Homo sapiens: one gene and its partners. The protein of the gene in region 3 purifies or fractionates together with the protein of the main gene of each other region. This does not show direct contact. Each region holds a gene or a part of one and is shown on either strand. Other genes may lie near its edges. The genes, in order: EIF2B2, TNPO3, SIGLECL1, IPO7, EIF2B1, PEX19 and SLC29A1.

Region 1 (4,068 bases), on a different chromosome or scaffold from region 3:
TAAGATCTGAAAGGCAAGACACAGTCCTGGATGTGTGCCCTTGTTACGGGGTGACTAAAAAGGCAGGCAACAGTATCAAGGATTTTTTTTTTAGGTGGACTCCTGTGCACTCCCACATTGCAAGGATGTGCTTCAGCAGCAACACTCAAGTCTCCTCTTCATTCTGTATCTGCCTAAGCAATCTGCTTAGGACACGTGTGGTCGGTCATAAAACATGATCATCAGGATGGTAGAGTTCACTCATCAGGCGGTAGATGTAGGAAGGTGCATTCCCACCAATGTTGGAGATAAAGAGGGTAATGAGCTCTGGGGGAACGTAGTCAAACACAGGGCAATGCACGCTGACCTTCTCCAGAATGTCCCCTGAAAGGCAAGCACACATGCTAAAGGTAAAACTGAGGCTCCCTCTCTCATAATTAAGTAGCATATAGATTCCAGGCTCGAGAATGCAGGCATATTAGCTCCCCAAGGACGGGAAGCTATGGAAAAATGCAAACCAGAAGAGATGACTTCAGATCATGACAATCCCTGCTTACAACTCTCCCATGCCTCTGCACAGCCCTCAGAATAAAATTCAAACTCAGGATTGAAGTTTAAGATCTGGGCCCTCCCTGACACACCACATGAATTACAATTTGGACCACTCTCCCCCTTGCTCATTACTGTCTAGCCATGTATGGCCATCCTTTTCTAACTGGCTAAGCCCCTGCACCAGCTCATAGAAAACTATGATCTTCATATGGTGGACTCTGTTCATTCAGGACTCAGCTGAAATGTCATCTCATTAAGACCCTTCCTCAATCTCAGGCCCCTAGCCACTTTCTACCACATCAGCCTTGCTTGTCCTCAGGCATCCCATGACCTGATACTTTCTCATCTGTCTTCCACAATAGAATGTGTGGGAACAGGGCCTTATCTTTTTCATTCATTGTTTTATCTTCAGTGCCTAGAAGAGTGCTGGATACATTGTAGGTGCTCAATAACTATTTCTTGAAGATTGAATGTTTATTTAAATAAAGGGATGAAGTCAATCAACTTCCAAGAGGAACTAGGACCCCAACCAACTACTATGCGTTGCTCTCAGATGGTGTGTAAGGCCACCCTTGCTGATGAGGCTGCACGCGTAATGAGCTGAGCTGCTGCCTTCAGAAGAAGCCAGAGAAAAGAACCCCAAGACATGAGACTATCCAGGCTACAGGTGAGTTTTCTAAGGAGGAACATTTCACAACCTGCTTCCTTTGGGAGTCAATTCACCAAAATGACTCCTTATAGCAGGAAAACAGGTACATTTTCCCAACTGGTTGTTGTCTATATCTCAAACAGCATGCAAAGCCAAACCCAGACAATGCTAAATGATCCAACCCACAATAGCCCCAACAAATCTAAAATATATTTGTCTCAGAACAAATTAACATGGACTTGGTCAGGTCCTCAAGCACTTTGAGCTTCTAAAGAAAACAGTCCCCACAAGAAGTATGATAAAAAACACAACTTGACAGCATTCAGTTCTACTGACCAACAAAACAACAAAAAGACCAAAACACATGCACACACAAACCCCGAATACACACAACACATGCACGCATGCACACACAGCTTCTGTACCTTCTGTGAATGGCAGGACTTCTTCAGGAGCCACAAACTTATGAAATGAGTCTTCTTCATTGGGGAACTAAAAAGGAAAAAATTTATAAAAACTAGAGACCCAGCAATTCCACTCCTAGGTATGTACCCTAGAGATGAAAACATATGTCCACACAGAAAACTTATACACAGATGCTTATAGCAGCATTATTCACAAAAGCCAAAAGCTGGAACCAACCCAAATGCCCATAAACAGATGAATGGATTAATAAATTGTGGTATGTTCATATAATGGAATATTATTCAGCCTCGAAAGGAAATTCTGACATTACAACATGGATGAACTTTGAAAACATCATGCTAAGTGAAAAAAGTCAGGCACAACATGTCACATATTATATGATTCCTTTTATACAAAATGGGCAAATCCATAGAGACAGGAGCAGATTGGAGGAGATGGGGAGAAGGACAAATAGGGAGAGATTACTTAATGGGTACAGGGTGTTTTTCTACAGTGGAGAAAAAGTTTTGAAACTAGAGAGTGGTGGTTGTACAATGCTGTGAATGTACTAGATATCACTAAATTGTATACTTTAAAATGGTTAATTGTATGTTATGTGAATTTCACCTCAATTTAAAAAATAGAGACCTATAAATAGGTTGATGTTTTCAAAGCAAATAGCTTCTATCACTGATGAAATGGCTCTTCACTTAGTCCTTGCTTGTATTCAGGTTACAAAGGACAGGCCCTGCAACAATAACAAAACTGATTCTATGATCCTACTTTCAACCTGCTTGGCATTTTCAGAAATGGTCAGGCGACAGGGAGTGGTGGCAATCGTAAGCAAAGGACCTTTCCCAACTACATATTGTCCTTACAATCTTGACTTCCTAAAGTTGACAGCTGAGAACTCTCAACTGTTTTACTGAATCAAGACTTCTGTGGTTCTTTCCAGCCTCCACTGGGTGTAATCCATTGAGTAAATGCAGATAAATGGAGGCCCTGGAGTGAGGTGGTTGAAGTCCCAGAGTTCAAGCCTACCCTTTGGCTTCCTTCTTTTCTGCTGGCTTCTAGCTAGAGACAGACACACTTACCTGTGGAGAAAGTTTGAACATAGGTGCACAGACGATGAGTGGGGTGGAATGGTGTTTTGCTGCCAGTGCCAGAGTGTGAGTTCCTGTCACAGCTCTCAGGGCCCCATTGGCCAGGATGGTCTTCGTGCCAATGATCACCTTTGGGACAAGACAAAAAATGTGAGCCATCCTGGGGGTGGAGCCCTAAAAGGGCCACTGGCCACAAAAAGCTAAATGCTTAGACCTCAGAATTGGTATCGTGAGGGGTCACAGACTGGTAGAGGTGAAGGGATCCCTGGCTCAATACAAGTTCTAGCTTAAAAGTAGGTTTCCAAGGAAAGAATGAATGTAAAATGGGACAAGAAACTGCAAAACCTACTGCTCTCAGTCCCATATTTTCTGGAAATTGAGATGCCATACCTTCTGAGAAGCCAGGAATCTTTTTCATTCACTATCCACAACTGCCAAGCTCTTTGAGCATAAGGCAGGAGCCCTGTAGCCAATCCCTAGAAACTGACACTCTTGCCTTAGTTCTATTTAATACTTCATTCTTTTCAATGCTTCAACCAAATTTAGAGGCTACTCCAAGAGAGGAACAATGATGCAGAAAAAAGGGAAAAGAAATTCAGTTAACAGATTAAAAAGGCCTAAGTATGTACTTTGAAAGGTGCTAGAAACTTTATTCTCTCACCGTGGATATTACAGGAGGAGATAAAAATCAATATTTTAGAAACATAATCTTCATGAATTCAACATAACTCCAGATATACCCACCTTGTTGACTCTTGACATAACGGCAAAAATGGCAGCATCAGTCATGACAGTTGTCTCAATACCTGCTTTGGACAAATTCACAGCCATTTCATGACCCTGCAATGGGAGGGAAAGGCTGATTCTAAGAGAAAGAGTGAGAAATAGTGAAAAGTGCTCTCAAATGTAACTGGATCTGGGGAATTGTGTGATATGGGCATATCCAGCACATAATTTCCAATAGATAACTCATTTTTCGGACAACTGATTTTTCAGACTCTCATAGCTCTGGTAAGCTGTAGGGAAGCCCAGGGGAAGCTAATAAATGTCTAATGCTCCACAGCAGCACCAGAGCAGCCATAAAACTGGAAATACAACATGCATGTATAATATAATCACGATTGCTGACAAGATAGCTCCTGGCTCATTATTTTAAAACAACCTGCATCCTTACATATTTCCTTTTTGAGACCTATTATTTACTTAGGATCAAGTGAGGTCAGACCAAGCATTAGTCATCCCCAAGGTAATTTACCCTGCTTTGATTCCTAAAAGAATCAAGTTATCTTTCCTTGAACCCAGCAGCTCGCCATCTTTTTTTTTTTTTTTGAGACAGAGTCTTGCTCTGTCGTCCAGGCTGGAGTGCAGTGGCGCTATCTT
Region 2 (4,095 bases), on a different chromosome or scaffold from region 3:
TAGACCAAAAAGAGTTGGAATAACTTTATGGAAGGGGAGGGATTTAAATGAAGCCATGAATTAGAGGTAGAATTTTGATGGATTAGAGAGGCAGATAGTCATACTGCCTCTAAGCCAAGATCAGAGCAAGTCAGAATAGTACTAAGTTTGTTAGTAGACAACTAAGCAGTGGGAGTAGTAAAGTGCTTCACAGGAATTTCGAAGGTAGGTTTGATTAGATGTGGAGTAGAATTGTAGACAGGGGAGAGCAGTGAAGAAGTAAGTATTCTGCATTCTATTTAGGCTATTCATTTAAGAAGTTTGGCAGTAAAAGAGAGAAGAAAATAACTAGAAGGGAAAGGCAATTTAAAAAATATTTTTCTCAAGGTATTAGAAATACATGTGTATTTAAAGACCACAAGAAGGGCCAGGCGCAGTGGCTCACGCCTGTAATCCCAGCACTTTGGGAGGCCAAGGCGTGCAGATCACTTGAGGTCAGGAGTTCAAGACCAGCCTGGCCAACATGGTGAAACCCTGTCTCTACTAAAAATACAAAAATTAGCCAAGTGTGGTAGTGTATGCCTGTAATCCCAGTTTCTAGGGAGGCTGAGGCAGGAGAATTGCTTGAACCCAGGGGATGGAGGTTTCAGTTAGCTAAGATCAGGCCACTGCACTCCAGCCTGGGTGACAGAGCAAGACGCTGTCTCAGAAAAAAAAAAATTAAAGACCGCAAGAAGAAAAAAAGGGTTTTTTTTTTTTCGATAGAAAAAATTAGATCTCTGATAGACGTCTTCAATTCTAATTTCAGTTGGTTTTGTTTTGTTTTGTTTTGTTGTGACTTGGGGTTCCGGCTGTGTTACCCAGACAGACTGTAGTGGCCATTCACAGGCGAGATCCCACTACAGATCAGAATGGAATTTTGACCCACTCTGTTTCTGACTTGGGCTGTTCACCCCTCCCTCCTTAGGCAACCCAGGAGTGGTTCCTCACTCCTGGGAGGTCACCACATTGATGCTGAACTTAGTACAGGCACCCAATTGGTATAGCATGCTCTAGCCCAGAACACTGGGTTCAAGCTGTTCCCCTACCTGCGCCTTTGGAGTGGCTGGGACTATGGTGTGTGCTGCCATGCCAGGCTGACTTAGTTTTTAAAAAAGGAAATAGGAACACAAGTTATTTTTCACATTAAAAAAAAATTAATACCATCACATAGAAGATGAAGAGAAAAAAATTTTAAAAATTGCTAACTTTAATTCTTAACCATGTTTTCTGCCTTCAAATCATGAAAAATCTAAGCATTAATCTCTGTTGAAACCCATGTTCATTCCTTGGATACTAATAAACTCCTTCATTTTCTTTCTAAAGACAAAAAACTTCTGGACTTTGTGAATCCAGCTGTCATTTTACACACACCTGCATACACACACACACAGCCACGCGTGCACACACACACACACTTTCCTATTAAAGAGAAATTACTAAAGGGGAAAGAGTGCTTGGTCTTTGGGAAGTTGAGACTAGAATTTATCTGATGTTCCTGCTTTCCTACATACAGCATGAAGAAGACTTTGAATTACGGAAAGAACTGATTGGACAGGTGATGAACCAGCTTGGACAGCAGCTTGTCAGCCAGCTGCTGCACACCTGCTGCTTTTGCCTCCCCCCCTATACCCTACCAGATGTGGCTGAAGTGCTCTGGGAGATCATGCAGGTTGACAGACCGGTAAGATTGTTTTCATGAGGAATTTATCTCATAGTCCCTAAATGTAATAGGCTTTGGTTCCTTAAGGCCAACCCTAATTTTGAAACTAGCCCTGTTTTCTGTCCATGGAACCAAATTTAGGCATATTGCCAAATTAGATTGGTAGATGAAGAGGCCCGTAAAGATCAGTAATTTATTATTGAGTTCTTTAAAGCATGTTTCTATGTCACTGTCATAGGGGGTATATTACCAGAAGTAAGTATCAAGCATTGAATTCAGTTGTGTGGCTGTCCAATGTGAAATTTGTTCACTTGTGAGAGATGCCCAAATGTCAGTTATATTAGTTACGTATTACTCAAGAAGTATTTAATCCTTTCAGACTTATTCTATAGCACTGTATTATTTCTTGGTGATACATCTAGCCAGAACATTTGGAAGCACATAATTGTCAAAGTAACCCACAATGTACAGTTGGATATATTTCCCCTTTGGATTTCTTTGAACCAGATCCTTTATCACCCACCTAAGGATGGAGTTGTTTTTTTAAAGCTATCTAATAATGCCCAAGTAATTTCAGTACTGGGCCACATGACCATAACTCAGGTTATGTGTACTGTGTGAAAGTTGAGTAGAATGGTAAAGTATAATATAACCTGAAATCATTTTTAAAATGGAATTTATAATTTTTAATATTACTGTAAAAGCAGTTCAGGAAAGTACTCATTGGGACCTAGTTAAAGTGAGCTGTCTTACAGAACCACAGAATATAAAATTGATAATAATAATATATAACAGATAGTACCTATTCCTCTCTGGTTCAATACACATGTTCCATTTCAACCTGATAGAGTAGCATATTTGTTTTTCTAAAGAAAAGTACTTTTTGAGCCTCCAGGAATCAGCAAATTTAATTCAAAAGTCCTTGACCTGAGGGAAAAAGTCTTCATACTCTGCTTAAACTTTTTTACAAATACATTTGGTTCCCAAGTAACAGAAAACTTATGTAAATCTAACTTTATGAAAACATTCTTGATTGTAAGCATATTGTTAAGTGCGAACAACAACAACAAAAAATGAGAACAAGAAGTTTGGACAGGAATAGAAACCAGGTAGCCATGTACTCTAAGGAGTGTACTGTATATCAGCCAGACACAATGGCTCATGCCTGTCTTCCCAATACTTTGGGAGACCAAGGCAGGAGGATCACTTGACGCCAGGAGCTTGAGACTACCAGCCTGGGCAACATAGACCCCATCCCTACAAAAAAAAAAAAAATTTTTTTTCTTTTTAATTAGCTGGGTGTGGTGGCATACATCTATAGTCCCAGCTACTCAGGAGGGTGAGGTAGGAGGATTGCTTAAGCCCAGGAGTTCCAGCCTGCAGTGAGCTATGATCATGCCACTGCACTCCAGTCTGAGCTGCATAGCAAGACCCTGTCTCAAAAAAGAAAAAGTTTGCTATATAACAACTATTATGTATTTTTAAGAATTAAGGAGCTGTTATGTATCCATAATTAAGAAATGCTTAGTACTTCATGAGCATTTATAATACTTTTGCTCTGGCCTATTATGGCCATAAATGAATATGATGGGAAAATATATAATGTAAAAAAAATTAGGTATAAAAGAGTAATTTTACAGCCCAAAACTATGACTGAAGTATACATTCCACTTAAGAAAGGGATGAAGAAATATTAGTGCTGACCCAAAGGACAACAATTAAACTGAAAATAAGAACCCAGAGGAAGTCTGTAGAATTTTTATTTTAGAAAGGAAGGAAGTAAAGGGAGTAGACAATTTTTGTGCATAGAAAAGGCATAAAGAGAATTCTTAGATATACTTATATAAAAAATATATAAGTAAATTAAACAGCAACAAGAGCAAGGTTTTTTAACACAAAGAACAGGCAGATATCACAAAGGAACTGAATGGATAGGACTTATTCTGAGAGAGATGGCCTTAAAATCCTTAAGATTCTGGACTCATATGTCTCATATGTATACTTTCTGACATGGTGGCTTAGTATACTTTTTGCCCCTGCTCTTTCAGGTATCTGAACCTTTACTCTGGATCACTTTTGATCTTTAAGCTCAAGAGTTTTTGGAAATCTGTTTAATTTTAAAAATATACTGGTCAAGTGCTTACACCTGTAGTTCCAGCACTTTGGGAGGATCTCTTGAGCCCAGGAGTTTGAGACCAGTCTGGGCAACATAGAAAGACTCCTCATCTCTTAAAAAAAAAAATTGTTTTTAATTAGCCAGGCATGTTGATGGACTTCTGTAGTCTGAGCTACCTGGGAAGCTGAGGTGGGAGGATCACTTGAGGCTGGAAGGTCAAAGCTGCAGTGCACTGCACGCCAGCCTGGGCAACAGAGTGAGACCCTATCTCAAAAAAGAGAGAGCGAGTGTGTGTGTG
Region 3 (4,813 bases):
CTGCTGCAACAGGGAGGTGGAGACTGTTGTAATAGGGAGTGGAGGTCTCCCATGTACCATAAAACAAAACCAAAAAGTGAGCTTCTATTCTAGTGGCACAGTCAAACCATAAACAAAAATACCATTAGCAAATGATATTTAGCACAAAGTGTTTTTGTTACAGGAAAGGGGTTCTGATCCAGACCCCAAGAGAGGATTCTTGTATCTCTTGCAAGAAAGAATTCAGGGCTATTCCATAGAGTAACGTGGAAGCAAGTTTATTAAGAAAGTAAAAGAATAAAAGAATGATTACTTCATAGAGCAGCCCCGAGGGCTGCTGGTTGCCCATTTTTATGGTTATTTCTTGATGACATGCTAAAGAAAGGGTGAATTATTCATGCCTCCCCTTTTTAGACCATATAGTGTAACTTCCTGACGTTGCCATGGCATTTGTGAACCGTCATGGTGCTGGTAGGAGTGTAGCAGTGAGGATTACCAGAGGTCACTCTCATTGTCATCTTGGTTTTGGTGGGATTTGGCTGGCTTCTTTTTTTTTTTTTTCCTTTTGAGTCAGAGTCTCACTCTGTTGCCCAGGCTGGAGTGCAGTGGTGCAATCTCGGCTCACTGCAACTTCCACCTCGCGGATTCAAGCGATTCTCCTGCCTCAACCTCCCAAGTAGCTGGGGTTACAGGTGCCTGCCACCACGCCCAGCTAATTTTTGTATTTTTAGTAGACAGGGTTTCGCCATGTTGGCAGGCTGGTCTCAAACTCCTGACCTCAGGTAATCCGCCCGCCTCAGCCTCCCAAAGTGCTGGGATTACAGGCGTGAGTCACCGAGCCCAGCCTTGGCTGGTTTCTTTACTGCAACCTGTTTTATCAGCAAGGTCTTTATGACCTGTATCTTGTGCTGACCGCCTATATCATCCTGTAACTTAGAATGCCTTAGCCCTCTGGGAATGCAGCCCAGCAGGTCTCAGCCTCATTTTACCCAGCTCCTATTCAAGACGGAGTTGCTCTGGCTCAAATGCCTCTGTCATTTTGAAAGTGTAATGGGTAAGAAAGTGCGTGACGGATAAAGTGTGAGAAAAAATAAACAGGGTTAAACAAGAGGAACGGAGTCCTCAGGGTTGGAGAGGAGTGTGGTTTCATCAGCACGGGCTGGAAAGGCCTTGCTGGGAAGAAAATTGGCCCACAAACTACCCTGGCACCGCCCCCAGCTGCGGATTGGCTCAAGCCCTCAAGATCCAATTGGGCACAAAGGTTGGAGGAGGGAGTTGCAGTTGCAGTTCCTGATTGACTCTGGCAGCCGTGCATCAGCTCCCAGGGGCACACGCCTGTGGGCACAATGCTTCTGCTTCATTGATTGGCTGTAGAAAAAGCTCATGCAGCCTCTGATTGGCTATAAAATAAGCCCATGCAGCCTCTGATTGGCTGCAACATAAGCCCATGCAGCCTCTCATTGGTTGTAAAATAAGCACATGCAGCCTCTGATTGGCTGTGTAAAGTAAGCCCATGCAGCCGCTGATTGGCTGCGGGTGGATGCACTCACCTAAGGATGCGAGCTAGCAGGTCTTGCAGCGGCTATCACGCCCCTCACGCCGCTATCTCTGTGCAGCCGACTGAGGATCCCTAGTCGCATAAGGCTGTGCCTGGCCTGTTGGCGTCCCTGGCAGTTGTTGGGTTCTGGCGGTTGTTGGGTCCCTGGCAGTTGTTGGCGGTTGTTGGGTTCCTTCATTGAAACTGCACTAACTGGGCTTCCAGTCAGCGTCAGTCAGCGGATCCTTGGGCCGTGGGGCAGCCGCAGGTCGGTTAGGCCACCAGGGCGGCTCTCGTGCCAGTGAGGCCCCTGAGAGCCCTTTGGTCAGACAGAGGCTAAATCTGAACAGTCAGGCGGTGAGATTAAGCATAGTCAGGGAGTTCGCCAGGAGCCAGCGTTCCTCAGCCTCCACCACGTCAGTCACCTGGTCAGCCAGAGGGCAGCTGGGGCGACATCCATCTACCAAGAAGGTAAGCAAGCGGCCCGTGGGTTCACAATCAGGTCAGTGCCCTTATGAGTCAACGGTTAGTCCCTTTGAAAATCAGTTCATGAGAAAATCCACTCCCTTCAGAACCTGCCCTGTTCATTGGTTAGTTAGGCTCCCGCTAAGTCGGTCTCTTGGTAAGTTACACCCCTGCAAGGCACCCAGTCATTACTCACACAGTTATCCCATGTGTGTCTATCAGTTTCATTGTTAGTTATCCTGGCTTTCCCTAGAAAATCGTTTTCCTCACCATAAATAGGTCAGTCATTAGTAAGTCAGCCCTTCCCTTAGAAAGCCGAACACCTTTGCATCACTCACACCCTGCTAAGGAAATACACAGATGGAAGTGTGCTGAGAACAGAGAATATCCTGAGCCCTTTGGAACAAGAGACAGAAGGAAAATTGAGAGACATGATGGTGAAGGAAAATTGAGAGACATGGTGGTCAAGGAAAATAGGCTGGGCGCAGTGGCTCACGTCTGTAATCCCAGCACTTTGGGAGGCTGAGGCCGGGGATCACTTGAGGTCAGGAGTTCAAGACCAGCCTGGCCAACATGGTGAAACCCCGTCTCTTCCAAAAATACAAAAATTAGATGGGCATCGTGGCCCGTGCCTGTAGTCCCAGCTACTCGGGAGGCTGAGGCAGGAGAATCACTTGAACCCCGTAGGCAGAGGTTGCAGTGAGCCAAGATCGTGCCACTGCACTCCAGCCTGGGCAACACAGCGAGACTCTGTCTCAAAAAAAAAAAAAGAAAAGAAAAGAAAAAGAAAATATAATGGGTGCATGACGAGTCATCACATGTATGCTCTAAAACTGATGGAGAGAAGAAAGAAGAAATCAGAATTTTGTACTTAAATGGATCATTACATCTCCAGCAGTAAAACCCACTCATGTTACACATGAGGAAATAAGAAGAGGGAAAATACTTGACCACAGTTATTCAGTGCTTTACTGGCAAATCCTGGCCCAGGACCTAGACAAGGCTCATTCCGACCATCTAACATGGGCTTTTAAACAGAAGAAAGGGGAAGGAAAAAAAAATTGACAATGCAAAAAGAAAGTGGATATGTGGCGTGAATGAGAGAGGCATTTAACGACCTGGAAACTTGGGCGATATCTTTTTTATGTGAGAAGGAAAAAGGGCAATCAGTCTGGAGGCTAAGGGTTGGGAGCACAGACCACTCAGAGAGGTCTGTTAAAACATGCCGAAATATGGAATAGGAAAGGACAGGGCTGGTTCCAGAACTCTGGGAAGGGATTAGGGGTGGTCAAGAGTGGTCCCAGGCTGAGTGTGTTGGTTCACGGCTGCAATCCCAGCACTTTGGGAGGCTGAGGTGAGAAGACTGCTTGAGCCCAGGAGTTCGAGACCAGCCTGGGTAACATAGTGAGACTCTGTCTCTACAAAAAAAATTTTTTCATTAGCTGGACCTGGTGGCTTGTGCTTATAGTCCCAGCTACTCTGGAGGCTGAGGTGGGAGGATCACTTGAGCCTGGAAAGTCGAGGCTGCAGTGAGCCATGTTCATGCCACTGCACTCCAGACCCTGTGTTAAAAAAAAACAAAAAAAAAGTGGTTCCAAGTTAAATGCTGATAGGAGCTAAGCAGGGAACCTAATACATAGTAACTAACATTTTTTGATTGCTTACCAAATGTGAGGTTCTGTTCTACTGACTCATTTAATCTTAACAACAACTCTAAGATGGGTGCTATTATTATCCATGTTTTTAAAATGAGCAAGTAGGCCTAGAGAGAGGTGAAGCTACTTGCACACTATAAAACAGCTAACCTTCATATCTAGGCAGTTTGACTTGAATTTAAAATTTAAAAAAAAGAGAGAGAGAGAAGCTGGTTGTTTGAATTTTTTGTGAAGTGCTCTGATTATTAAATGTTATCCCATTTTAAAAGTTAGTTTTAAAAAGTAAGCATTTGTAGGCCAAACAAAATTCATTTATGATTGTTTTTAGTCTCTGAAGCAGGCTGACAGTGAGGGAAGTGACTTACCCAGAATCACCCAGGAAGTAGCGACAAAGATTAGGTCTTCTGACTTCTGGTCCACTTCCAGGAAAAATCTAAGTATACTGTGTGTCACATCAGGGCTAGCTGATTTATTCTTATATTTTATTCATGAGGAAGTGAATTTGGAGAGGAGAATGAACTTCACCATGCTTATACAGCAGTTTTTAAGGCAAAATAGAATCATGAAAAAGACACCACAGTTGTAGTCAAAGGTTGAGTCTGAAATCTATGAACGTAACGGCTGCATGTCTTGGGGCCAGTCATAGTACTTTTGTGGATCTCTGCCTTCCTTTTGGAAGTGTTGATAATGAGATGTACCTCACAGAGTTGTTGAGACTAAGATAAAAGATAAAATTTCTACGTCTCTAGAGTTGTAAATGGCAACCATAGTTTCTCATTAGATGTTAACCAAAAAAGTAGTTAACAGTCATGGCATGATTCAGTCATTCCCAATTGATTCACAGCAGGGCACAGTGGCTCATGCCTGTAATCCTAGCACTTTGGGAGGCTGAGGCGGGAGAATTGCTTAAGCCCAGGAGTTCAAAACCAGCCTGGGCAATATAGCAAGACTCGACTCTCTCTCTACAGAAAATATTTTTTTTAAATGAATTGGGTCTAGTAGTGTGCCCTTAAAGTCCCAGCTACTCGAGAGACTGATGTGGGAGGACTACTTGAGCTCAGGAGTTCGAGGCTGTAGATAGCTGTGATTGTACCACTGCACACCAGCCAGGGTGACAGGGTGAGACTCCATCTCTTTAAAAAAAAAAAAAAAAGGATTGATTCACAGTATCCAAATA
Region 4 (4,095 bases), on a different chromosome or scaffold from region 3:
TAAAAAAATAAAAAATAACAACCTTATGGAGTGTACAACTCAGTGGTTTTTAGTTTATTCACAGTTGTATAACTATCACCCCCAGAAGGAACTCTGTATACATTAGCAGTCACTCCACATATCACCCCAAATCTCCCAACCCTAGGCTACCTATAGTCCACATTTTTTCTATGGATTTGTTTATTGTGGACATTTTATATAAATGGAATCATATAATACGTAGCTCTTTGTGGGTGACTTCTTTCATTTAGTGTAATGTTTTCAAGGATTATCTGTGTTATAGCAGGTTTCAGTACTTTTTCCTTTTTGTTGCCAAATTATATTTCATTATATTAATATACCACATTTTATTTACTCATTCATTAGTTGTTTCTACTTTCTGGCTGCTTACAAATGTTGCTGTGAACATTCATGTTTAAATTTTTATGTGGACATACGTTTTCATTTTTCATGGGTATATACCTAGGAGTATGAATTGCTTGTCATAATTTGAGACACCGCAGAACCCATTTTCCAACGTAGCTATACCATTTTATATTTCTGCCAGCAGTATATTTTGATTATAGCCATCCTAGTGAACGTGAAGCATTATGTCTTTGTGGCTTTGAAATTTTTCATGTGCTTACTATCCGTTTGTATATTTTCTTTAGAGAATATCTATTCAAATTCCTTGCCCCAAAAAAATTGCTTGCCTTTGTTTTTTTTCTTTTTATTTTTTGAGATGGAGTCTTGCTCTGTCACCCAGGCTGGAGTGCAGTGGTGAGATCTTGGCTCGCTGCAGCCACCAGTCTCCCACATTAAAGTGATTCTCCTGCCTCAGCCTCCCAAGTAGCTGAGATTTCCGCCTCCCCGCCCCCCCGCCATATGCTGGAGTGCAGTGGCGCAATCTCGACTCACTGCAACCTCTACCTTCCGGGTTCAAGTGATTCTCATGCCTCAGGTGCCTGCCCCCAGCCTAATTTTTGTATTTTTAGTAGAGATGGGGTTTTGCCATGTTGGCCAGGCTGGTCTCAAACTCCTGGCTTCAGGTGATCCGCCTGCCTCAGCCTCCCAAAGTGCCAGGATTACAGGCGTGAGCCACTGTGCCTGGCCCTTGCCCATTTTTAATTGGGTTATTTGTCTTTTTATAATTGAGTTGTTAGAAATCTTTACATTCTAAAGCCAGGCACTAAGTACTCACAGAATATTTAGTCATTGTGTCTTTTATCTTTTCGTTTTTTGGAAATGGAGCCTCGTTCTGTTATACAGGTTGGAGTGCAGTGGCGTGATCTCTGCTTACTACAACCTCCACCTCCTGAGTTCAAGCGATTCTCCTGCCTCAGCCTCCCGAGTAGCTGGGACTGCAGACACCTGCCACCACACCAGCTAATTTTTGTATTTTCAGTAGAGATGGGGTTTCACCATGTTGGCCTGGCTGGTCTCGAACTCCTGACCTCAGGTGATCCACCCGCCTCGGCTTCCCAAAATGCTGGGATTACAGGCGTGAATCACTGCACCCGGCCGTCTTTCATCTTTTCTATACCTGTTCACCCATCCTTCTCTTTGTTTATAAAGTATGTATTAAAGACATTCTAATCATTTGTGGCATAGAAGGCTGAGAATTAGTGAGTTCTCTTGGCAAATTCAAGTTTATCTATTCTTACCTTTCACTCAGCTTCACTTAGTGGTAATACCTTACATAGGTAGGCAAAGTTATCAAAAACATGAAGTTGATTTTGGTATGCTACTATCAACTAATCCATGGACCTTTTTAAAGTTTCACAAGATTTCCCACTATGTCCTTTTTTCTGTTCCATGACCCAGTCTAGGGTCTCACATTGCATTAAGTTGTCATGTCTGATTATGTAAGTGTTGATATATAAGTGTCTTATGTTTTTAATGTTGATTTAATGTGCAGTTTAAGGAACTCTTCTAAAAAGCTTCTTTCCACTTAGAAAATACTCACTTTGAATACTGAGAGTGCCTTTTTAGAGAATCACTTGAATCTGGGAGGTGGACATTGCAGTGAGCCGAAATTGTGCCACTGCACTCCAGCCTGGGCAACACAGCAAGACTCCGTCTCAAAAAAAAAGAAAAAAAAAAGAGTGTGCCTTTTTAGATAGCCAGTTTATTCGTTTGAAAGCAGGATTTTTCTCAGGTTATGTTATTTTCAGCCAGAAACTTTATCAGACAAGTTTTTTCCTTATAAAAGTTTCATAGTAACAGATAAAATTAACCAAACTTACATCATTCGAACACTATTGCTGGTAAGATTTGGCATAATGGCTTTCTAATCAAGGAATATAAAAACGTGAAAATGTGTTTAGTGGTTTTTGGTGGTGAAGTTCTGGAATACGAAAATTGGTTGTGGATTCTGGGGTTCAAAGAATGAGAATAAATATATGTAACATTAATAGTCATTTTTAATAGTGTTATATCTGTTTGGAAATTGAGATGATTATATTTGGAACTGTATCAAAATAACTGTTGTTTATATTTACAGAAAAAGATCTATAAAGATCAGATGGAATACATGTTGCAGAATCATGTATTCCCTCTCTTCAGCAGTGAACTAGGCTACATGAGAGCAAGGGTATGTTTTAAAGCTGCATTATTTATATACTTTTGTCTTGTAATGAATGACTCTGTGGACTTTTATATTGAAACTTTTAAATGTTCACTTTGAAGCCTGTGTCTTATTTTAGGTTTCTGTTTAATGTAAATCTTTACATGGCTGCTGTAATGTGTGCATAGGTTTCATCTGTGTCTGGTAGCAGTGTCTGTCTGTGTTTTTCATTCAGATCTTGCTATCCACACAAACATCATGCGGCCAAAGAGTAACTTGGGATCATAGTACTGGTCTAGTGTTGTCTCTGGACACATCTACCACTGGCCAGCCTCCAAATTCCCACACACAGAACTCAGGGAATAGAGATTAGCTTGGGGGAATTTAAGGTAAGGTATCTACAGTAACTCACTGTGTTTTTACAAAAGGCTTGCTGGGTACTTCACTATTTTTGTGAAGTGAAGTTCAAAAGTGATCAGAACCTTCAAACAGCCTTAGAGCTAACAAGAAGATGTCTGATTGATGATAGAGAAATGCCTGTGAAAGTGGAAGCTGCCATTGCCCTTCAAGTATTGATCAGCAATCAAGAAAAAGGTAAAGGATTTTTGTATGTCAAGAAAAGTGAATGTTGGCCAGGTGCGGTAGGTCACACCTGTAATCTTAGCACTTCGGTAGGCTTAGGTGGGAAGAGCGCTTGAAGCCAGGTGTTCAAGACCAGCCTGGGCAACATCTCTACAAAAAAAATTTTTAAAAATTAACTGGACATAGTGGCATGTACCTGTAGTGCCAGCTACTTGGGAGTCTGAGGCAGCAGGATCACTAGAGCCCGACGGTTCGAGGCTGCAGTGTGCTACGATTGCCACTACCCTCCAGCCTGGGCAACAGATCAAAACCCTGCCTCTTATAAAATATATATATATATATTAATTGTAAAAAGCCATAATCCTAGAAACTTGGCATACTTCCTTTTTATGTGAAAGTACTTTTTTAAAAAACTCATCGATATTTGTTATATCAGGTTTTAAGAAGTTTTAGGGGTTTTACGCAAGTTTTTTACTCTTTCTCTTACAGCTAAAGAATATATCACACCATTCATCAGACCTGTAATGCAGGCTCTTCTTCACATTATAAGAGAAACAGAAAATGATGACCTTACCAATGTAATTCAGAAAATGATCTGTGAATATAGTGAAGAAGTTACTCCTATTGCAGTAGAAATGACACAACATTTGGTATGTTGTTTGAACCTACCATATTTGCAAGCATTTTAATGTAGCTCTCAGTATGTTCCAGGTTGTGTCACCAGTGGCTTGCCTTACCTTATAGCAGTCAACCTTTTTGGCACCTGGGATCGGTTTCATGGAAGATAATTTTTCCACAGATGGTCCGGGGGAGATGGCTTTGGGATGAAACTGTTCCACCTCTTATCAGACAGGCAATGGTTTCTCATAAGGGGTGTGCAACCTAGATCCTTGAATGCACATTTCACAGTAGGGTTCACGCTCCTGTGAGAATTTCCGGCAGTAATGCTCACTCACCTACCACTTATC
Region 5 (4,095 bases), on a different chromosome or scaffold from region 3:
AATTCAGCACCCTAAATGTAAGCATCTGGGTATAGCATGAAATCTTGTATAAGCAAAATAATAATGCAGCCTTTAATCTGAAGGGCTTGCCTAGAGACACATGTCTTTAAGGCAACCTCCAGTGTCTTCCCATTGTTCTTAAAATAACATCCAAACAACCTTAGCCTCACCCATACCACCTTGCAGACCTCATCTGCCGCTGCTACTTAATGTCTTTCCATGCCTCAGCCTCCCAAAGTGCTGAGATTACAGGCGTGAGCCACCATGCCCAGCCACCCAGCTTTATTTCTATGTGTGCTTGTTTACTATCCGCTTCCTCTATTACAATCAAAACTCCATCACAGCAGAACCCTACCTGTCTTGTTCACTGATGTATCCCTAGCATCTAGAATAGTGCCTGGTATATAGTATGTACCTAGTAAATATTCACTGAATGAATGAATGAATTGAAGATACAGGTCGGGGCTGTGGCCCTAATGTGAACATCACATTCCTTGTTGGATCATTCCAGGGGAGACAATCCAGGGTCTGAGGGCGAATCTCACCAGTGCCATAGAAACCCTGTGTGGTGTGGACTCCTCTGTGGCAGTGTCCTCTGGCGGGGAGCTCTTCCTCCGCTTCATCAGTCTTGCCTCCCTGGAATACTCCGTAAGTGCCTGTTCTCCCTGGGGTTACCTTTCCACTTCTCTGTTTAGTGACAGACATTCTCAGCATTAACTGGATCTTCCCTGTCCCCTCAGTTTGCTCTTTTCTTCCTAGGATTACTCCAAATGTAAAAAGATCATGATTGAGCGGGGAGAACTTTTTCTCAGGAGAATATCACTGTCAAGAAACAAAATTGCAGATCTGTGCCATACTTTCATCAAAGATGGAGCGGTGAGTGGATAATCATCATGGTGGTAAGGAGGAGCAACGGTTTCGAGTCCGACTGCCTGGGGTAAAATCCGGGCTCTGCCACTCACTTGCTGTGGAGACTTGAACAAGTAACTTAACCTGTCTGTGCAGCTTTCTCATCTGTTAAATAAGGATGACAATAGTACCTACCTCCTTGGGTTGTTGTGAGGATTAAATGAGGCAAGACATGTAAGGGGCAAGGGGTGTGAGGGCTTGGTATTGTGCCTGGCACTTAGTAAGTGCTGCATGAATGTAGGTCTTGTTATTAGAGATGGTTGTCATTGTAAACAGGCAGAGAGGGACAGTGGGACAGCACGTGTGATTCTTGATTTATTTTATTTATTTATTTATTTATTTTGAGACGGAGTCTTGCTCTGTCACCCAGGCTGGAGTGCAGTGGCGCGATCTCAGCTCACTGCAAGCTCCGCCTCCTGGGTTCACACCATTCTCCTGCCTCAGCCTCCCGAGTAGCTGGGACTACAGGTGCCCACCAGCAAGCCCAGCTAATTTTTTTTATTTTTAGTAGAGACGGGGTTTCACTGTGTTAGCCAGGATGGTCTCGATCTCCTGACCTTGTGATCCACCCGCTTCGGCCTCCCAAAGTGCTGGGATTACAGGCGTGAGCCACCGCACCTGGCCCTGATTCTTGATTTAATACAGTGTTTTACTAAAGAAGTATTTTTATGATTGTATGTGTAGTAAATCTGAATTAACAGAACAGCTCTTGTCACTGGTTAACACTGAGGACTTTCTTAGTGAAGGTTAGCAATAGAGGGAAATTGAGGGAAATTTTCTTTTTAACTTCATTTTAGATGCTATTACAGAGATGTAAAGCCACGCAGTGTTTATAAGTGAGGAAAGACAGGAGGTGCAAGTTGAACCATCTTCCAGTAAAGGTGTAATGAAACTATCATAATGCCCCTCCCACCAGCATACGTCCTTTTGCCACCTAGGCCTCCCCTGATCATAAAATCATTTACTTGCATTTTGACTCTTAAATCTTGTCCTCCATTTTATTAGCCCCTTCCCAACCTTTGAAGTATGTTATTAAATAAATGGCATAATAGATGTGAGTGAAACTTGTAGAAAAGCCAGTTGCAAACGAAGCCTTTTTTGGGCAAGTGGAGGCAAGGTTGTGACTTCCTCTCGCTGGGGCCTTCTCCTTCCACAGACCTGCTGTGCCGTCAGTATTGTGCGGGTTTCGTTTGCTCTAGTGTAGTGTGGTATGTATGTACTTTACCTGCAGTCACCTACTCAGGACTGATTTAGACAAAATTTATAGCAGAGCTGCTCAGATTTGCACATGCAGAGGAGTCAGCTGGGGTCTTATTAAATGCAGATCGGGATTCAGTGGGTTTGGGCTAGGGTCCACGAACCTGCCTTCCTAACGGGTTCTCAGGTGAGACCCAGAAAGGAGCTAGAGAGCTGGTTCTGCCCCCTTGTCTTATTCTGTCTTCTGCACTCTTCCATAGAAAAGAGGTTATGGAGGCTGGGCATGGTGGCTCATGCCTGTAATCCCAGCACTTTGGAAAGCCAAGACACGCAGATTGCTTGAGTCCAGGAGTTCAAGACCAGCCCGGGCAACATGGCAAAACTTCATCTCTACTAAAAATACAAAAAGTTAGCCAGGCGTGGTGGCACACTCCTGTGGTCCCAGCTACTTGGGAGGCTCAGGTGGGAGAATCACCTGAACCCAGGAAGTTGAGGCTGCAGTGAGCTGAGATCATACCACTGCACTTCAGCCTGGGCAATTGGAGTGAGATCCTGTCTCACCAAAAAAAAAAAAAAAAAAAAAAAAAGAGGTTATGGGCCTACTGTGGTGGCTTATGTGTATAATCCTAGCCGGAGGTTCCCTTGAGGCCAGGAATTCAACACTAGCCTGAGCAACATAGGGAGAGAGGCCCTGTCTCTACAAAAAATAAAATAAATTAGCTAGTCACAGTGGCGCACATCTGTAGTCCCAGCTACTGGGGTGGCTGAGGTGGGAGGATCGTTTGAGCCCAGGATGTCGAGGCTACAGTGAGCCATGAACACTGCACTGCACTCCAGCCTAGGCATCAGAGCAAGACCTTGGCTCAAGAAAGAAAAGAAAACAGATTATGTCTAAGTGTCTACACATTGCATCCACGCCACAGATAGGTTGTGATTACCCCAAACAGTGTTTATAAATTCAAAAAAATTAGTTAGCCATCATTTCAAAATTGGATTTTTGAAACATCACCTGGTCTGGCAATCTTGGGGCCACATGACGCCAGCTGGGGCTGAGGAGTCCTGGCCCTCCTTAGCCTTTTCTTTTTGAGACAGAGTCTCACTCTCTTGCCCAGACTAGAGTGCACTGGCATGATTATGGCTCACTGCAGCCTCAACCTCCCAGGCTCAAGTGATCCTCCCACCTCGGCCTCCCAAGTAGCTGGGACTATAGGCACATGCCACTGCATCCAGCTAATTTTTTTTGTTGTTATTTTTTGTAGAGATGAGGTCTTGCCAAGTTGCCCAGACTGGTTTTGAACTCCTGGGCTCAGGCAGTCCTCTCACCTTGGCCTCCCAAAATGCTGGGATTACAGGCGTGAGCCACCACACCCAGCCTTCTGTAGCCTTTCGCTTTGCTGCTGGCCCCACCCAACCTGCTGCAGTGACTTCTGCTACCTACTTGGTTCCTGTAGGCCTGCGTGTGCAAACCATGTCTTAGAAATAGGAAAACCAACCCAAGGGAACCTCATGGAGCCTTCAGCTATCCAGGCTTTTGTATCCTTTGGGTAACACTGTGTGGGAGTTCCATTTCTGCACCTGCTACAGGATGTGAGACCTGGCAGAAACTTTTTTAGCTTGCACATGGGATGGAAACTGTACCATCAGGTCTCCTTTCTGGTTGTGGTTGATTTGTGAGAAAGTGTACAGAGATGCTTAGGGTGTCGGGAACACGTGCCGCAGTGCAGAGGGTGTGAGTGAGCAGCAAGGAGCCTGCCCCTTTGACAAAGCTTTCTCGGTCCACAGACAATATTGACTCACGCCTACTCCAGAGTGGTCCTGAGAGTCCTGGAAGCAGCCGTGGCGGCCAAGAAGCGATTTAGTGTATACGTCACAGAGTCACAGCCTGATTTGTCAGGGCAAGTACCTTTCTGTTCAGTTATGTGCCCAGCCATAATTTTACAGAGCAAACTGCGGATTACAGTCCAACAGGATCAGAACCAGAATGTGCCC
Region 6 (3,509 bases), on a different chromosome or scaffold from region 3:
AGGCCATTTCTGTGAACCCTACTCCATTGTGGTTTCTGCCACTATCAAAGTTCCAGCTACCTGCAAGGTGAAGGAAGGCATCCCTTTTGGGGCATGCACTTTCTTTCCTTTCTCAAAATAATGTTATATGTGGCCACACTGATGTTCACCTTTACGTCCAGGGTCTTTGTGCCTTGTCTCTACTCCCTCTCTTGGATCTGGGGAGGAGGGGCAGAGACCTGGGACTCTGTATTTCTATAGTTCTCCTGGCAGAGCCTTTGAGAATGGGGAGAAACAGCCTGGGCTGGGGCTACAGGTCTGTCACTATGCTCTCTTGCCTTCAGACAGACCATTCTGAATTCTCTAAAGGGAAAGGGCTTTTGCATCTAATCACAATAGAGTTGAAAGAGAGGCCTTAGGATTCTCCTCTCTCTAGGTGCTGAGCCCTCACCTCCCTGTTCCAGGCTGAGAACTCAAATGGTTACCCTGCTTCTTCCTACAATGCTGTGTGATATGGGTGAACCCAGCCCCTGACCTTCCTCTATCCCCTGCCCATCCTCCCTTTTACCTCCTCTCTTTTTTAAACACCTGTTTATCCCAACCTTTTTGAGCTCAAGCTGTGATAAAGAAGGGCCCATCCTATTTCCCCTCATCTAGTCCATTTACGATTCTCACTGACTCCCCGTCTTCCTGGCAGACACAAATAAACCCAGTGTCAGGTCTAGGAAATTAATGGCTATTCTTCCCCAGATACATTCTGGCTTATTTGAGATACATGATTCTCTTAGAATCCTGTCCCTTGGTTCAGGAAAGTAGCTTGGAAAAGGAGTAGGGGTATAGCTTGGGTCCCTTTTCCTGCAAGGCCCCATGGGGCAGAATATAATAAATATTCTGAGTGAGGAGTGTGGTCTTTTTCTGATCTTCCTCAGCTTCCGTAAGTTGCAGAGTGAGGTATATTAGGAGACTAGTTCTACACAATATTGTAATGCTGGGTTCCATCAACACCCACCTTCCACAACTCAGTCTGCACCTCAGTTGGCAAAGGAGACTGGATGGCCATCTTTCCTCATGTTCCCTTGAGTATTTCAATGTAGAAAGCCCTTCAAGTGGTATTATATTTTAACCTTTTACATTATTGTTATTAATGTTAGTAATATATTGTTATGTTTTCTAAATTATTTTTCTTTAAGCTGACGTGGCTTTTTTTCTGTGGCTCCCAGTGGGTCTACGGACCTTGGCTGACATATGTTGGTAGGTACTCTGGTCAGCTCAGCTGGCTGTCCTGGTTCACTCAGAAGATAAGTCTCTCCAAAGCAAATTCACATGCATTATGAGTCGCTTTGAGCTTCTGACATGTCACTTGCCCCGAGGTTAAAACTTTTCACCCCTTGAAGACCTTACATGTTTTATGGTATTGGTGAGGAAGGAAATGTTCTCAAGGTCTCAGGCTATTTGGGAAATTCCAACTCCTATACCTTACCAGAGCATGGAAGAGCCCAGATCTGAATGTAAAACGTCTCTGTTCTGCCAGAGATGGAAAAAATACAGGTATACTTGTGATATAGTCATGGGGCTTCAGTGTCACTATTTTCTCCTTAAAGCTCCAGCCAAAAACTGGACAAGGATAGAGAGGAGGAGGGAAGAACAAAAGAGCCCTTCTCTATGAACCTTGTGCCTTCTGTCCTACCAGTTTTCTTTTACAGATTCTCACTTCTGCTAGCCTAGCCAGGGCTTACTCCAGGAATCTAAATAGATGCCCTAGTCCACTTTATCTTTGTTCCCAAGGCACTCATTTTTATTTTGATTTTGATTGAATGTGAGCAGGTTGACCTCAGGTCACACTTTGTTCCAAAAACTTTTGGAATTATTCCAGGACTTGTGGTGGAGTTATGGTACTCTAGGGCAGTCTTTCTCAAACTATGTATGGTAAAGGACCAGGTTTTTTGTTTTCCAGTCCTTCACTTATCAATATGCATTCCTATTGCCCATGACAGGTATGGAGTTCACACTGTGTGCTGCCGACCCGGCAAGTTTGACAGCACCCAAACTGGCCAGACTGTTCTGTAGGTTAAGTCCATTGATCATGTACTTGGATATCACAGCAACATTGAAATGCTAAAAAGTTTTTAAACACTCTCAATTTCTAATTCACCATGTCACAGACTGGTGAAAAAAAAAAAAAGGTGTTCACTGACCAGCACAAGTCTGCAGATCATCTTTGAGTAGCACTGTTTTGGGGCCCTCGGTCTCTCTGAAGACCCTAGCAGAACTGATACCTACCTGTATCTCTTGTTCTCTCCTATTTGAGTTTCACTTCCAGAGAACTTGTTCTTCAGCAAGAATGTGTCACTAGTAAGGACATCTCTAGCATTTCTCTAGCCTTCCTTTTCTGCTGCTCAAAAATAATCGTTACAAAGCTTAGGTTTAAGCTGTATATGAAATATTTATGCGACTCTCAAACTTTAAAGGAGTTGCTCCTTTGTTCCAAAATTAAATGTGTTAGATAAATTTGTGATTGTATGGGTGGCTTCATGAATTAAGAATTGAATTAATACAGACTTTTTGATAATTGGGACATTTTCCTGTGACTCTGGAAGGTCTTGTCAAAGCCCCATGAGGCAGTTATAATATGATGTTAAGATGGCTTTGGGGAGCTAGGAGAAAACATTGGCCCATATTGAATGACGTGGAGACGGCAGACCATACAAAAAAGGACCAAAAGACTTAGAGGAAATGGGTATGCAAGAATGAATGTTATATAACACTGGTAAACCCACCAGCTGACTACCCCAGAAAGACCTGGGAATTATTTTTTAATAAAGACAATGGGAAAGGCACTGATGAAGGGTTACCAGCATCTTTGAGAAATTTAGAAGTGGCTGTCTCTCTAGATCGAAGCTGATACAAGATGTAAAAGAAACTGTTTTCCTAGTAGCAGTGGGGGAATGATAGGATCCTGACATAGCAGAGGCCAGGTGGCAACACTTAACTCTCAGAAGCAAGGTGAGTAAATTTCCTTAAGGGTAGCAAGGTCAAAGTGGAGATGGCTAACGGAATGTGAGTGGTCCTAGGAGCAGGATAGATGGGCAACCAAGAAGAGTATTGTCTTATATATAAGGGAGATCAAGAATGGTTGAACAGAAGGCTGAAGTCAGAAACTTCAAAGAAAAGTCCCCATTTCTTGTCCAGTTTTTAAGCCTGAGATAGTTCTTAGACTCATAAACTATCAATGGAAAGAGACATTTATCAGTTAATCATTGAGTGGAAAAGCACTGTTCATCCTCTGTTCTCACACCACAATGAGTGACACAGAACTCTTCTGTAATCACGTGTGGAATTCCCTCCCCTCAACAAGCAAGCAATTCTGCAGTGGATAACAGCTGGATATCCTCTAATTTACTTTAATTCTGACACTGTCTACCTGGAGACAGTGTCAGATCCCACAGGTTGACCAATCAATCACTGAGACTCTCCCCCCCAACTTCTGATGTCAATTGCAATTCCTGGGTTATTTTGCCTGTGCTATAAAT
Region 7 (4,095 bases), on a different chromosome or scaffold from region 3:
CTTGTCTCTGCCACCCTTGGCCTCTCCCGGCAGGATCCCCCAGTCCGTACGGATCCTGGGCAGCCTGGTGGCCATCCTGCTGGTGTTTCTGATCACTGCCATCCTGGTGAAGGTGCAGCTGGATGCTCTGCCCTTCTTTGTCATCACCATGATCAAGATCGTGCTCATTAATTGTAAGCTGGGCCAGGAGGGGGCCTATGGGAGGAGGCATGCCCAACTACCCCCACTCTTTTTTCAGACCCAGCGTTAGCCAGAGAGAAGCCCAGCCTCCGCCTGGAGGGAGTGGATGCTGTGAGCAGCTGGGATTCAGAGGCCTGAGTGGGCCTGGACCAGGGCTGGGAGGGGGCAGAGAGAAGGGCAGCTCAGCCTCAAGGCTCACCAAGAGTAAAGTAGGAATGACAGGGATCTGTCTTCTTGGGCACCCCCAACCACCAGCCCTAGCTCCCCTGCTCATGCCCGCCCTGTTTCCCCAGCATTTGGTGCCATCCTGCAGGGCAGCCTGTTTGGTCTGGCTGGCCTTCTGCCTGCCAGCTACACGGCCCCCATCATGAGTGGCCAGGGCCTAGCAGGCTTCTTTGCCTCCGTGGCCATGATCTGCGCTATTGCCAGTAAGTCCGGCTATCTACCTGCCCAGTGCCCTGGTGTGGTGGGGAGAGGGGATGGGGCCTGTCTCTGATCACTGACACCACCCCAGGTGGCTCGGAGCTATCAGAAAGTGCCTTCGGCTACTTTATCACAGCCTGTGCTGTTATCATTTTGACCATCATCTGTTACCTGGGCCTGCCCCGCCTGGTGAGTAAATGGAGGGAGCTGGGGTTTGGGGTATAGGGGTCTGGGGTTCCAGACCACGGGTGTTCTGAGGACAAAACCTGAAGGAGGCCGGGATTCTGGAGATTCTGCCTCTAAATCCACCTCCCCCGTCTCCCTTACTTGATAGGAATTCTACCGCTACTACCAGCAGCTCAAGCTTGAAGGACCCGGGGAGCAGGAGACCAAGTTGGACCTCATTAGCAAAGGTCCGAAGAGCCTGAGGAAGCTGGGGTGGAGGATGGTATACCAGGCGGGGGATAGCATGAGCAAAGAGAACAAAGATGAGTGCCCTGTGTTAGCTAGCAGCCCTGAGCCAGAGGAGGACTGAAGGACTACAGCAGGGAGAGGGGGACAATAGGAAATAAGGGCCGGCAATGATAAAATGGGGGCAGATCCTGGATGACCTTGAATGCCTGAGGTGTTTGGACTAAAGGCAGTGGGAAGCAATTTCAGATTCTTGAGTGAGGAGTAACATGACCTGAGGCTCCTGGGAGAGGCCAGGCCCCCGGGTCTTGAGTTGTAGGGATTTGGAGGCGAGGTCTGGGTTAGGGTTAGAGTACGGCTGGGACTGGTTAAGGAGGCGTCTACTTTCAAGTAATCCCAGCCGTTTTGGGGAATGTTTATGTTGTCTTCTGTTGCTCTGTCTTCCCCACAACTTGGAGATTTCTTCCATCCCGCAGGAGAGGAGCCAAGAGCAGGCAAAGAGGAATCTGGAGTTTCAGTCTCCAACTCTCAGCCCACCAATGAAAGCCACTCTATCAAAGCCATCCTGAAAAATGTACGTAGGGGAGGTTATCCTATCTTCTACCCCTTGTCCTCTTTCTCTCCTCCTTTTGCTCCCTCCCCCTGCCACCCATCTCCTCCCTTTCTGACCTGAGAGTGGTCACTCCTGGATTCTTTTGTGTGTGCGTGCGTGCCCATGCGTGCGTGCCGGGGGTGGGGATTCGTGGTTCCTTTTTTTTGAGACAGAGTTTCACACTTGTTGCCCAGGCTGGAGTGCAATGGTGCAATCTCCACTCGCTGCAACCTCCATCTCCTGGGTTCAAGTGATTCTCCTGCCTCAGCCTCCCAAGTAGCTGAGATTACAGGCATATGCCACCATGCCCGGCTAATTTTTTGTATTTAGTAGAGATGGGGTTTCACCAGGTCAAGCTGGTCTCAAACTCCTGACCTCAGGTGATCCACCCACCTCGGCCTCCCAAAGTGCTGAGATTACAGGCGTGAGCCACCACGCCTGGCCTGGATTCGTGGTTCTTTAATGCACAGCCACCATGAAGACACAGGCATTTGGGTGACTCTACCCCTTCTATCTAGATCTCAGTCCTGGCTTTCTCTGTCTGCTTCATCTTCACTATCACCATTGGGATGTTTCCAGCCGTGACTGTTGAGGTCAAGTCCAGCATCGCAGGCAGCAGCACCTGGGGTGAGGATGCCACAGGTTTCCAGGATGGGAACAGACAGGATCTTGAGTTGGGCTGGAAGTGGGGAAGGGAGGGAGCCTGGGTCACCTTCTCCCCGTTTCCTGGGTCCATTTGCCCTTCCCTGGGCTGGAAGCATCTTCTCCATTTTACTGTTGGGGAAGCTGAGGCCCAGTGAAGGTTAGGCTTGCTATACCTGCCTCTGTGAGCCTGATAACCACCCGTTCATCTCCTCTTCCAGAACGTTACTTCATTCCTGTGTCCTGTTTCTTGACTTTCAATATCTTTGACTGGTTGGGCCGGAGCCTCACAGCTGTATTCATGTGGGTAAGTGGAGGAAGAGGGCCCCAGGCCCCTGTGGGAAGTAAGAGTCCAGCCTGGACCCAGAGAGGGAACCCAAGAAAGTATGGTAGTAAGGGGACCATTTGTTTTAAAGTCGAGGCATAATTTATGTATAGTTAAGTACAAGTCTTAAGTGTACAACTTAATGAATATATGTATATACACATACCTGCCCAGATCGAGATGTAGAATATTTCCAGCACTCCAGAAGGCTCCACCATGCCCCTTTCAAGAGTAACCCCCTAAGGAGAACCAGGCTTTGAGGTTTCAGTTCAGATCCTGAGGGGCCCCAGATGGATCCTTGGGGGCCTGGCTGTGCCCTGGGGTGGCGGCCTGGGCTGAGGCCCTGCCTGGTGCCCACAGCCTGGGAAGGACAGCCGCTGGCTGCCAAGCCTGGTGCTGGCCCGGCTGGTGTTTGTGCCACTGCTGCTGCTGTGCAACATTAAGCCCCGCCGCTACCTGACTGTGGTCTTCGAGCACGATGCCTGGTTCATCTTCTTCATGGCTGCCTTTGCCTTCTCCAACGGCTACCTCGCCAGCCTCTGCATGTGCTTCGGGCCCAAGTGAGTAGGGCTGGCAGGGAACTTGGTGGCATCAGACAGGATCTAGAGTTCCAGTGGGGGACACTCAGTAGAGGGAGGGCAAAAGGAGAGTCCCTGCTCCCAGAGCTGAGAGGAGAGATGGCTCAGGAGGGGCTCCCAGGCTGAGGGGATAGTGACTGTAGTGGAGGGGGGCGCCAAGCTTACTTGGGTGGAGGTGGAGACAGGTTTGCAGGAAGGAGTGAAAGACAACCCCACCATACACGTTCCCTCAAGGAGGAGAAGCCAGGTTGGGGTTAGGCAGCCAGGATGGGTTGATCAACAGAATGAGGTTCGACAGTCAAGTTGCTCCACCCCACCCCTCCTTCCACCCAGAGGCTCTGGGCTGGGGTACAGCCATTCTGAGGTAGCCTTGCCCTTCCTTCCCCGCTTAGGAAAGTGAAGCCAGCTGAGGCAGAGACCGCAGGAGCCATCATGGCCTTCTTCCTGTGTCTGGGTCTGGCACTGGGGGCTGTTTTCTCCTTCCTGTTCCGGGCAATTGTGTGACAAAGGATGGACAGAAGGACTGCCTGCCTCCCTCCCTGTCTGCCTCCTGCCCCTTCCTTCTGCCAGGGGTGATCCTGAGTGGTCTGGCGGTTTTTTCTTCTAACTGACTTCTGCTTTCCACGGCGTGTGCTGGGCCCGGATCTCCAGGCCCTGGGGAGGGAGCCTCTGGACGGACAGTGGGGACATTGTGGGTTTGGGGCTCAGAGTCGAGGGACGGGGTGTAGCCTCGGCATTTGCTTGAGTTTCTCCACTCTTGGCTCTGACTGATCCCTGCTTGTGCAGGCCAGTGGAGGCTCTTGGGCTTGGAGAACACGTGTGTCTCTGTGTATGTGTCTGTGTGTCTGCGTCCGTGTCTGTCAGACTGTCTGCCTGTCCTGGGGTGGCTAGGAGCTGGGTCTGACCGTTGTATGGTTTGACCTGATATACTCCATTCTCCCCTG

Evidence for each region.
Region 1: the proteins of SIGLECL1 (region 3) and EIF2B2 purify together in Homo sapiens (co-immunoprecipitation; 3 studies listed by BioGRID and IntAct, with this or other methods). This does not show direct contact.
Region 2: the proteins of SIGLECL1 (region 3) and TNPO3 purify together in Homo sapiens (co-immunoprecipitation; 3 studies listed by BioGRID and IntAct, with this or other methods). This does not show direct contact.
Region 4: the proteins of SIGLECL1 (region 3) and IPO7 purify together in Homo sapiens (co-immunoprecipitation; 3 studies listed by BioGRID and IntAct, with this or other methods). This does not show direct contact.
Region 5: the proteins of SIGLECL1 (region 3) and EIF2B1 purify together in Homo sapiens (co-immunoprecipitation; 3 studies listed by BioGRID and IntAct, with this or other methods). This does not show direct contact.
Region 6: the proteins of SIGLECL1 (region 3) and PEX19 purify together in Homo sapiens (co-immunoprecipitation; 3 studies listed by BioGRID and IntAct, with this or other methods). This does not show direct contact.
Region 7: the proteins of SIGLECL1 (region 3) and SLC29A1 purify together in Homo sapiens (co-immunoprecipitation; 3 studies listed by BioGRID and IntAct, with this or other methods). This does not show direct contact.

Annotation. Positions count from the first base shown.
Region 1 is NC_000014.9:75,005,326-75,009,393, reverse strand, and holds part of EIF2B2 (translation initiation factor eIF2B subunit beta), read right to left. Parts: intron 3,529-4,068; coding exon 3,433-3,528; intron 2,818-3,432; coding exon 2,680-2,817; intron 1,673-2,679; coding exon 1,606-1,672; intron 364-1,605; coding exon 206-363; 3' UTR 1-205. UniProt on the Homo sapiens protein: Acts as a component of the translation initiation factor 2B (eIF2B) complex, which catalyzes the exchange of GDP for GTP on eukaryotic initiation factor 2 (eIF2) gamma subunit.
Region 2 is NC_000007.14:128,967,755-128,971,849, reverse strand, and holds part of TNPO3 (transportin-3), read left to right. Parts: intron 1-1,534; coding exon 1,535-1,702; intron 1,703-4,095. UniProt on the Homo sapiens protein: Importin, which transports target proteins into the nucleus. Specifically mediates the nuclear import of splicing factor serine/arginine (SR) proteins, such as RBM4, SFRS1 and SFRS2, by recognizing phosphorylated SR domains.
Region 3 is NC_000019.10:51,249,559-51,254,371, forward strand, and holds the start of SIGLECL1 (SIGLEC family-like protein 1), read left to right. Parts: upstream 1-1,521; 5' UTR 1,522-1,987; intron 1,988-4,813.
Region 4 is NC_000011.10:9,426,058-9,430,152, forward strand, and holds part of IPO7 (importin-7), read left to right. Parts: intron 1-2,482; coding exon 2,483-2,572; intron 2,573-2,708; exon of another isoform or gene 2,709-2,897; intron 2,898-2,973; coding exon 2,974-3,139; intron 3,140-3,616; coding exon 3,617-3,777; intron 3,778-4,095. UniProt on the Homo sapiens protein: Functions in nuclear protein import, either by acting as autonomous nuclear transport receptor or as an adapter-like protein in association with the importin-beta subunit KPNB1.
Region 5 is NC_000012.12:123,626,950-123,631,044, reverse strand, and holds part of EIF2B1 (translation initiation factor eIF2B subunit alpha), read left to right. Parts: intron 1-511; coding exon 512-648; intron 649-759; coding exon 760-876; intron 877-3,888; coding exon 3,889-4,001; intron 4,002-4,095.
Region 6 is NC_000001.11:160,275,852-160,279,360, reverse strand, and holds the end of PEX19 (peroxisomal biogenesis factor 19), read left to right. Parts: 3' UTR 1-2,554; downstream 2,555-3,509. UniProt on the Homo sapiens protein: Necessary for early peroxisomal biogenesis. Acts both as a cytosolic chaperone and as an import receptor for peroxisomal membrane proteins (PMPs).
Region 7 is NC_000006.12:44,229,874-44,233,968, forward strand, and holds part of SLC29A1 (equilibrative nucleoside transporter 1), read left to right. Parts: intron 1-33; coding exon 34-173; intron 174-473; coding exon 474-608; intron 609-694; coding exon 695-792; intron 793-937; coding exon 938-1,016; intron 1,017-1,490; coding exon 1,491-1,588; intron 1,589-2,124; coding exon 2,125-2,233; intron 2,234-2,469; coding exon 2,470-2,555; intron 2,556-2,933; coding exon 2,934-3,133; intron 3,134-3,543; coding exon 3,544-3,655; 3' UTR 3,656-4,095. UniProt on the Homo sapiens protein: Uniporter involved in the facilitative transport of nucleosides and nucleobases, and contributes to maintaining their cellular homeostasis. Functions as a Na(+)-independent transporter.